2 separate regions of the Homo sapiens genome follow, and region 1 is linked to region 2. The links come from fine-mapping of genetic effects on gene expression. A gene starts in region 2. The other region holds a variant in brackets. All regions are shown on one strand. Distances are between the middles of the regions. Region 1 overlaps ATXN1 (ataxin 1). Region 2 holds the start of ATXN1 (ataxin 1).

Region 1 (4,515 bases), 410 kb after region 2:
TATTCGCGAAACTATAGCAGGGAAAAAGATCCAAGTTTCTGGAACGTGTCCTGATGAAAAAATAAGAGTGCATCAGATGTGGAGATAAAATGTCTCAATGTTGAAGGGATGCATTTATCTACTTAACACTCAGATGTTTTTCTGATGGAAGCCTCTGCTTATTTATATTTTAGCAAAGGCCAAACTAACCTGTTCTAAGAAATAATCTCATACTGAAAGAGAGACCTCACTTCCCATTTCCCAATCCAAAGTAAATGCTGTGAAAGACCAGGAATGTAGTACCGTCAGCACACATCTGGGACTGTTTGTAGCCTACGTTCTGAAATCAGGGGATGCTGACAGGCTCAAGCTGCGATACTGAAAGGAGGCCTGGTTTCCCTTCTGTTGGAATTACATTACAAGGAGAAATATTGATCCAGCATACTCAAGAATGGGCTGGGTGTGGTAGCTCATGCCTGTTATCCCAACACTTTGGGAGGCTGAGACAGGCAGATCTCTTGAGCCCAAGAGTTCAAGACAAGCCTGGACAACATGGTGAAACCCCGTCTCTACAAAAACTACAAAAATTAGCTGGGCGTGGTGGCATGCGCCTGTAGTCCCAGCAACTCAAGAGGCAGAGGTGGGTGGATGGCTTGAGCCTGGGAGGTCGAAGCTACAGTGAGCCAAGATTGGGCCACTGCACTCCAGCCTGTATGACAGAGTGAGACCTTGTTTCAAAAAAAAAAAAAAACCCTGAAATTAAAAAAACATTCACTGGGGGAAAAATTGGTTTCTTAGTAGAAGAATACCAGCAAAACTCAAAATGAAAATGGAAATGCTCTGCTGCCAATCAGGAAAAGACTGAAAATCTTGGCAGAATTCTGCTGGAATCCTCTGCCCATTTCCTTCATGTTCTCATAATTATAAAAGAAAAAGAAATGAACATTGATAAAGTTCCTGCTGAATAAGAGAAGTTTTTTCTACCTCACATTTGTTGAATGCATCTCATTTAGTCATCACCCTAACCCTGTAGGGTACGTGTTATTATCTCCATTTTCTTTATTTTTTGAGACAGGGTCTTGTTCTGTCTCCCAGGTTGGAGTGCAGTGCCGCGATCTCAGCTCAATGCAGCTTTGATCTCCCAGGCTAGGCTCAAGCAATCCTCCCACCTCAGCCTCCCAAGTTGCTGGGACTGCAAGCATGCACCACCACACCTGCCTAAATTTTTTTATTATTTTGTAGAGACAGGCCTCACTTTGTTACCCAGGCTGGTCTCGAATTCCTGGCCTCACATAGTCCTCCTGCCTCGGCCTCCTGAAGTGCTGGGATTACAGGTGTGAGCCACCACACCCAGCCAATTCCCATTTTAAAATGAGGAAACCAAGGCTTGGGTTCGGTGATTTGCTGTGACTGAAAATCCTTCCCTCCCCACAAATAGGGACACCACTATCAGATATCACATAGATCATTTCCCAGGAGCCAAGGGCAAAGGGCAGACCCGTCTTTGGCCAAAGCCAAATTCTTTCCTACACAGTAAATATGGGAAAAAGAGAGACTTCAAGCTTCACCCCAAGAGTTGAGACATTTTGAAGAAAGACTGACACAATTAGGGGAGTCGCTGGATATAGGAGTGAAGTGCGAGAGAGGTATCAAATATCAGGCTCTGGCCTATGCTTGGAGAAATGGTGCAAAACCGTTAGCAGAAATATGGAACCGGAGTGCATGCTGATTTGAGAGGGGTGGTAAGCATCCAAGTGGAAATTCCTCACAGACTCTTGAGCTGAGACTGAAGTTCAGGAAGAAGAACACACCTGGATTTTTTTTCTTATGCTAGGCATTATAGTTGCTTTTATTTCATCTCAACAATCTTTTGAAAACGTATTATCATCATTCACATATTCCAGATGAGGAAACTGAGGCTTACAGAGGTTAACTGCATCTTCCACGTCCACAGTGCTAGTATAGAAAATGAGCTTTGTTGTAAACAGGAGACTGCCTTACTTTTTTTGCATTTCCGCTTGTCCATTAAATATTTTATTGCCTGTTTAGATTACAGTCATTGGTGCCTACAGCAGCATTATTTATCTTTCATTGGGAATTAGGGCCTTAAATTAAATCGTTAGTCATATTTTATGTTTTTATAATGTTGTAGAGATTCTAGTTAGGGCATGGTATTCTAAAAAGGAAAAGCATTGATTTAATTTATAATGAATAATTGTATCTAAACAGTGTACTATGTGTTCTGCGTTCAAATAAGCCAGAAAGCTTCTATTTATACCAAAGGAATAAACAGCAAACAACAGACATACTTAAATTGAAAACATGAGCACATTTGAATTTTATTTTTGAATGTAGATGTAATTGACCATTTGTTCTGCAAACAAGGCTTTGGTCCAGTTTAGGGGGAAAAAAAAATCAGTGCACTAGTGTGGAGTATTTTCTAAAAGAAGACAATTTTAGAGACTTAGTAAACTTTCTGAACCGGTAAGACTTGAAATGCCTCATGAAGGGAAGTGAGGCAGGGAAACTTTTAATGAGAGATTATTCCATTCACCATCTTTGCTGGAGCTGACTGGTGTCTATGATGCAGGAAGTAACCTGAGAAAGAATTCTAGGGAGGAAAATGTGTTTTTTTTTTTTCTTTCTTTCTTTTTTGAGACACAGTCTCGCTCTGTCACCAGGCTGGAGT[G/A]CAGTGGCATGATCTCAGCTCACTGCAACCTCTGCCTCCCGGGTTCAAGTGATTCTTCTGCCTCAGCCTCCCGAGTAGCTGGAACTACAGGCACGTGCCACCATGCCCAGCTAATTTTTGTATTTTTAGTAGAAACAAGATGTCACCATGTTGGCCAGGATGGTCTCGATCTCTTCATCTCGTGATCCACCAGCCTCAGCCTCCCAAAGTGCTGGGATTACAGGCGTGAGCCACCATGCCCAGCCTGAAAATGTGATTTTTTTATGCAGATGAAAATAGGACCACAGTGAAGGAGGTAGAGAAGAGGGCCTTTCTTAGAAAATAATCGGAACAACCACAGCCAGTAATTGTAGGTCTTGAGTACGCCAGGCCCTCATCTAAATTCTTCTTATGTGTGAACTCACAGCAAGCCTGTGGGGTAGGAACTAGTATTATTCCCACTTTGGAGATGAGCAAACTGAGGCACAGAGAAATGAATTAGTTAGGCCTGGTTAGTACTTAGATCAGAGAAATTAATTAACTTGCATCAGATATACACAGCTGAGGAGTAAGGCCACCAGGATTCCAAATCAGGTGGCCTAGATCCCAGGCCTGTGCTGTTTGCTGCAGCAGTCATAGGAGGTAGTTTGAACTGGAAAGCAGTTCATCATGAGAGGTAGCATTTTTTGAGGCACTACTGCCTGCTTGCATGCTAGGCACTGAATTGTCCCATGCAATTCTCATAACAACTTCATGAAATAAGGCGTATTACTATCTTCATTTTTTTTTTTCTAAGGCAGAGTTTCACTCCTGTCGCCCAGGCTAGAGTGCAATGGTACAATCTTGGTTCGCTGCAACCTCCACCTCGCGGGTTCAAGTGATTCTTCTGCCTCAGCCTCCCTGGAATTACAGGCACTCACCACCAAGCCCGGCTAATTTTTTTTGTATTTTTAGTAGAGACGGGGCTTTGCCACATTGACCAGGCTGGTCTCGAACTCTGGATCTCACATGATCTGCCCCCCCTCGGCCTCTGAAAGTGCTGGGATTATATGTGTGAGCCACCGTGCCTCGCCATACTATCTTCATTTTCTTAAAGAGGAAATCAAAGCTTAGAAAGTTGAATGGGCCCGGTGCTGTGGCTCATATCTGTAATTCTAACACTATGGAAAGCCAAAATGGGAGGATCGCTTAAGCCCAGGAGTTTGAGACCAGCCTGCACAGCGTGATGAAACCCTATCTGAATAAAAAAGTTTAAAATGTAGCTAGATGTGGCGGCACAAGTCTGTAATCCCAGCTACTAAGGAAGCTGAGGATCACTTGAGCACAGGGAGGTCGAGGCTACAGTAAACTATGGTTGTGCTACTGTGTCCAGAATTAGGTGCGTTCTTGGTCTCACTGACTTCAAGAATTAAGCCGTGGACCCTTGCGGTGAGTGTTACAGTTCTTAAAGCGGCATGTCTGGAGTTGTTCATTCCTCCCTGTGGGTTCATGGTCTCACTGGCTTCAGGAATGAAGCTGCAGACCTTTCCGGTGAGTGTTATAGCTCATACAGGCAGTATAGATCCAAAGAGTGAACAGCAGCAGCAAGATTTATTGCAAAGACAAAAAGAACAAAGCTTCCACAGTGTGGAAAGGGATCGGAGAAGGTTACCACTGCTGGCTCGGGCAGCCTGCTTTTATTCTCTTATCTGGCCCTACCCATGTTCTGCTGATTGGTCCATTTTACAGAGAGCCCAGTGGTCTGTTTTGACAGGGTACTGATTGGTGCATTTACAATCCCTGAGCTAGACACAAAGGTTCTCCAGGGCCCCACTAGATTAGCTAAATAAAGAGTGTCGACACAAAGGTTCTCCAAGTCCCCACCAGAG
Region 2 (4,217 bases):
ATATTAGCTTTTTTTTAACTGAAAATTATCTAAATGTAAGATGTCTAAAAATAGAGTGGAGGTGGATTGGACAGTTTGCAGATTATGAGTTGGAATAAAAACATCGCAGTTAAGCCAAAAACATGGCAACCAATATTTTCTGTTATAAAAATATTTGAGATGAATTTAGTTTTTATGAAAGCTGTCTGAAACTGAAATGAATAGCAGAAGCTTTCTGTTTATTCACAGTCCAGTAATAATAATACCTGCAGCACAAAGCATACGTCTTTTCTATATAAAGCCAACAAGCTTCTGCTCCTTTCTGAAGTCGTCTTTGCCAAGCAGGGTGTTGGGGGCGGGGGTGAGGATAGGGGTGAGGGGACATTTTACCCGGTTATGCTCTTACGTACTAACCTTCACCTTGACAAAGCTTGTCAACGAAAACAAAACCAGTCAGAGCCTTTTCAGGAAACTGATGTTAACTGTCCACTAGAGGCTGTAATGAGACCAACAATGTCACTTTAGACCAACCCGAGGTTTAAACCGTAACAATAATCGATTTTTAAATGGAAAAAAAAAAGTTGTAGAAATGAGTAAGAGTGAACACTAGTAGTTATACTTAAATAGCCACATATATGTGCATGGTATTTCAAAAATGTGAGAAAAAAATATTTCCGGGGCTCTGCACCTTCCTCGCTCGTATGTTTATTTTTATTTATGAAGCACGTAGGCTCTTGCAGGCCAGAGTTGTGTAAAAACTGACACTTTTTTTTTGGTCATCCTGTGCCCTGCCTCAGTTGGTGACTAACCGTTAGGTCATAAGTAAACTCAGCCAAAAGATCTCTCAAATACAGCTTACAGTCAAGATTGGTGGCTTTCAGAAAGAAACTTACGCGAAAGGATCATGTTTCCAGACACTTAGTTCTAAGCACCTGAAGAAGGTCAAATGTCGCCCGACACCTACCGGCCTTCCAGAATCATCTGCAACAAGAACGCCGCACTGAGCGCCCTTAGTCTGGAGGCGCCTCCTAGTCCTCCAGGTGCCACACCTGTTGGCAAGGTGCACCCATCCGAAGAAGATTCCTTCGCGTGGAGGTCACACCTGGCGGCGAGACAGGCGGAGGGGCGGGGTGGTGGGAGTCGGAGACCGCACTGAAACCCTGAGTCCAGATTTAAGTTCCTCGTCGATTCTCGAGAACTGCCATTTGATGCTCCGGTTGCTTTCTCTGTCTCCTACACTGGTTACCTCATTTCCGATTAAATTAATGATCCGAAATTAGCTGCGAGAGGAGTGCGCGGGTCTCCTTTCCAGGCTAGAGCGGAGTAGTTCCATATCAAAGCCGATTTCCGGACCTGCGTGCGAAGAGAGAAAGAGGGCAGGGTCGGGCGGTCGCCAGCGTTCGCCGGCAGGAAAGGTGAGGGTACCTGTGCAGTCGGGGGACCCCTTGAAACTTTCCGGAGTTGCACGCAGAGGCAATCCCCGCGGCCCCCAGGCCTGGGTTCCGGAACGCCGAAGCGACGCCGGTTTGTGGCTTAACGTGCAGCTGATGATCAGAGTGAGCCCTCTCAGATGCTGCTCCGAGCGCCTGGGACCAAGGACACGTCGGGATTAGAATGGGCCGACCTCCCCTCCCCGCTGGGGTGTTGCATCGGCTCCCAGCTGAAGCCTGACAGCCCTTGGGGGAGTCCCCCAGGTTGCCTGAGTAGCGCCCCGTTGTCGTTCAGTCCCCTCCAACTAGGTGCAGGGACCCAGGGAGGCGCGCGAGGACCGACCCGTCACCGCTCAAATTACCTCATCGCCCAGCTCCCCGCCCCCTTCCCAAACCTGGAAGGAACCTTGCCCTCCGGTCCGCGTCTCCCCTCCCCCGCACCCCATCCCGAGCCACTCTTTGGGAAAGGTGCCCGCCTCCCCGGGCGGCGCGCAGCGAAGGGTTAAGGGCGCGGGCCGGCCGCCGCGCGGTGCGCTCGCCGTGCTCTGTGCGGCTCGCCGGGCCGCCCGCCAGAGGGTGCCCCCCACCCCCATGAAGTCGGATCCTTGAGCTGCGGCGGCGGCAGCCAACTGCTCCATATTTGGCTTCTATTACACATTTACATACTGGAGCGAGCGAGCGAGCGAGCGCGAGAGAGCGCGAGGGAGGGAGGGAGGGCGGGCGGGCGGAGGGAGGAGGGAGGGGAGGGGAGCGGGAGGAGGGGGAGGAGGAGGAGGAGGAGGAGGAGGAGAGAGCAGAGTATACCGCAGACATCATTTCTACTACAGTGGCGGAGCCGTACAGGACCTGTTTCACTGCAGGGGGATCCAAAACAAGCCCCGTGGAGCAGCAGCCAGAGCAACAGCAGCCGCAAGACATTGTTTCTCTCCCTCTGCCCCCCCTTCCCCACGCAACCCCAGATCCATTTACACTTTACAGTAAGTGACTATTTTTTTTTCCTCCTCCGATTCTTTCCCCCCTCCCCCATTCCCTTCTCCCCTTATTTAGATTAAAATCCCTCCTCCCCCGATCTCCCGAGAGGGGCAAAAGCAACAACCAGCAAACAAACCCAAAACCCCAATCGGCTGCACGGAAAACAGCTGGAAGAGGAGCGAAGGAAATCGACGCGTCGTGTTCTGTGTGTGTGCGTGTGTGTGTGTGTGTGTGTGTATGTGTGTACATACAACCGTCCCCGGCTCCAGGCTCCCGGGCCGACACCCCCACTCTGGGCGCAGGGGCGGCCGGCGGGGGGGCTGTCAGGGGCTGGGTGGGCGCCCGCCGGGCTAGGGGGCGCGCCCGGGCGGGGGGCGCGGGCGGGGAGAGCGGCGGCGGCGCCCCGCTCCCCCGGCTGCTGGTCCGGTCGCAAGTGCGGAGAGCCATGTCCTCCTCCCTCCGGGTGGCGCAGGGGGGAGGCGGCGGCTGGGGTTGGGGGGTGGTCCCTTTCCCGGCCGCCCTCTTCCCATTCCTCCTCCCCGGAGAGGGCGGTGAGAGAGAGGGGGTCTCACGGAGGGCTGGACTTCTCCGCGGGTGGTCGCCCGGCCTCGGCGCCCTGGGGCGGGGGTCTCCCCTCGGAGGGCCGGCCTCGCCGGGTGTGCGGCTGCGGGCGGGGAAGGGACTGCTCCTGCAGCCGGGACGGGACTTTGCGCGCGGCCGGGTGCCGGGCGGGGGGCGCAGAGGGGTGGCCTCGGGGACCGCGCGGGGGTAGCGGGTGTGCGGGTGCCTGGAGCGCGGCTGGAGTGGCGGTGACGGCCCTGGCCGCCGCCGCCACCGCCGCCCTGTTGGTGCGGCCGCTTCCTGATCATGTGCAGCGGCAGCCGCCGCCCGGAGCCGGGAGCCCGCGAGCGCCCCAGTCCGGGCCGGCGCCCCCGCCAGCACCCGCGGCAGGAGACGAGGAGCCGCGGCAGGCGCTGCCCTGAGCCGGGAGTGAACGGCTGCGCGGCTGCTGGGAGGGTGAATGAAGCCAGGAGGAGGGGAAGGAGGAGGAGGCGGCGGCCGCCGCGGAGGAGGCGCTGCGGGGATTGGGATGCGCCCTGGAGCCCCACTGCTCGTTCACTCTGGGCCGGGCCGGAGACTCTGCCACTCCCGGGGGCGCCGCCGCCTCCTCCTACGTGGTTCCAGTGCTGCGCGCAGGCCGGTCCCGCAGGGGGCAGGGAAGGGGGCCGGACGGGCGGAGCGAGAGGTGAGGCGGTGTCGGAGCGCGGCGTGAGTGTGAGTGAGTGTGTGAGTGACTGTGTGTGTGTATTTGTGCGCGCGCGCGCCGGGCGGGGGGCGAGGGCCGTCGCGACGCGGAGGGGGCCCTTCCTTGGCTACTTGGCTGACTCTGCAGCGCCCCGACCCCTCTTCAGCCCCCCGCCTTCAGGCTGCCTTCTTAAACTCCGTGGCTTGTGCTTTCATTTTGTTTCAGACCACGTAGGGGGCTGACTGAAAGGGATGAAACAATTCAGGTTTTCTAGGGAGATTGAGCAAGAACCTTAGTGGGGGTGGAAGTAGGGTGGTGATCGAGACTCTGCCAGAAAACAAAACAAAACAAAAAAAAATCCGTTTCTAAGGACGGCGGGGATTCGGTTCGAGCCCGTGGCTGCTCTGTTTTGTTTTGCTTTCTTGGTATATAATCCTACAGATAAAAGGGTAATATAAATATTTGAGAAGAGGGAAATTGCTGAAGAGTAGTAAGGGCAAAAAAAAAAAAAAAAAAAAAAAAAAAACAGTCGGAAGAAGCTGGTTATATAATGCGCGATGTGGCTAACAAGAAAGGCAAGCTATTTTTAT

What was found. PIP is the estimated chance that this variant, and not a neighbour inherited with it, causes the effect.
Region 1: its variant is the best candidate, but not a certain one, in a credible set for the expression of ATXN1 in whole blood (TOPMed, PIP 0.82).

What each region holds. Positions count from the first base shown.
Region 1 is chr6:16,347,621-16,352,135 of GRCh38, reverse strand. All of the region lies in intron 6 of ATXN1 (ataxin 1), which reads left to right. Among named protein-coding and RNA genes, the nearest start is that of GMPR, 110 kb to the right of the region's middle. The variant G/A (reference allele first, on the strand shown) is at 2,669.
Region 2 is chr6:16,759,467-16,763,683 of GRCh38, reverse strand. It overlaps ATXN1 (ataxin 1), which reads left to right and starts at 2,224. Exons shown (of 8, transcript NM_001128164.2): 1 at 2,224-2,386. It overlaps ATXN1-AS1 (ATXN1 antisense RNA 1), which reads right to left and starts at 2,546. Exons shown (of 3, transcript NR_136240.1): 1 at 2,518-2,546; 2 at 1,405-1,565; 3 at 1-1,332. RefSeq lists an enhancer at 571-1,770 and silencers at 1,771-2,090, 1,908-2,123, 2,131-2,290, 2,767-2,896, 2,967-3,446 and 1 more.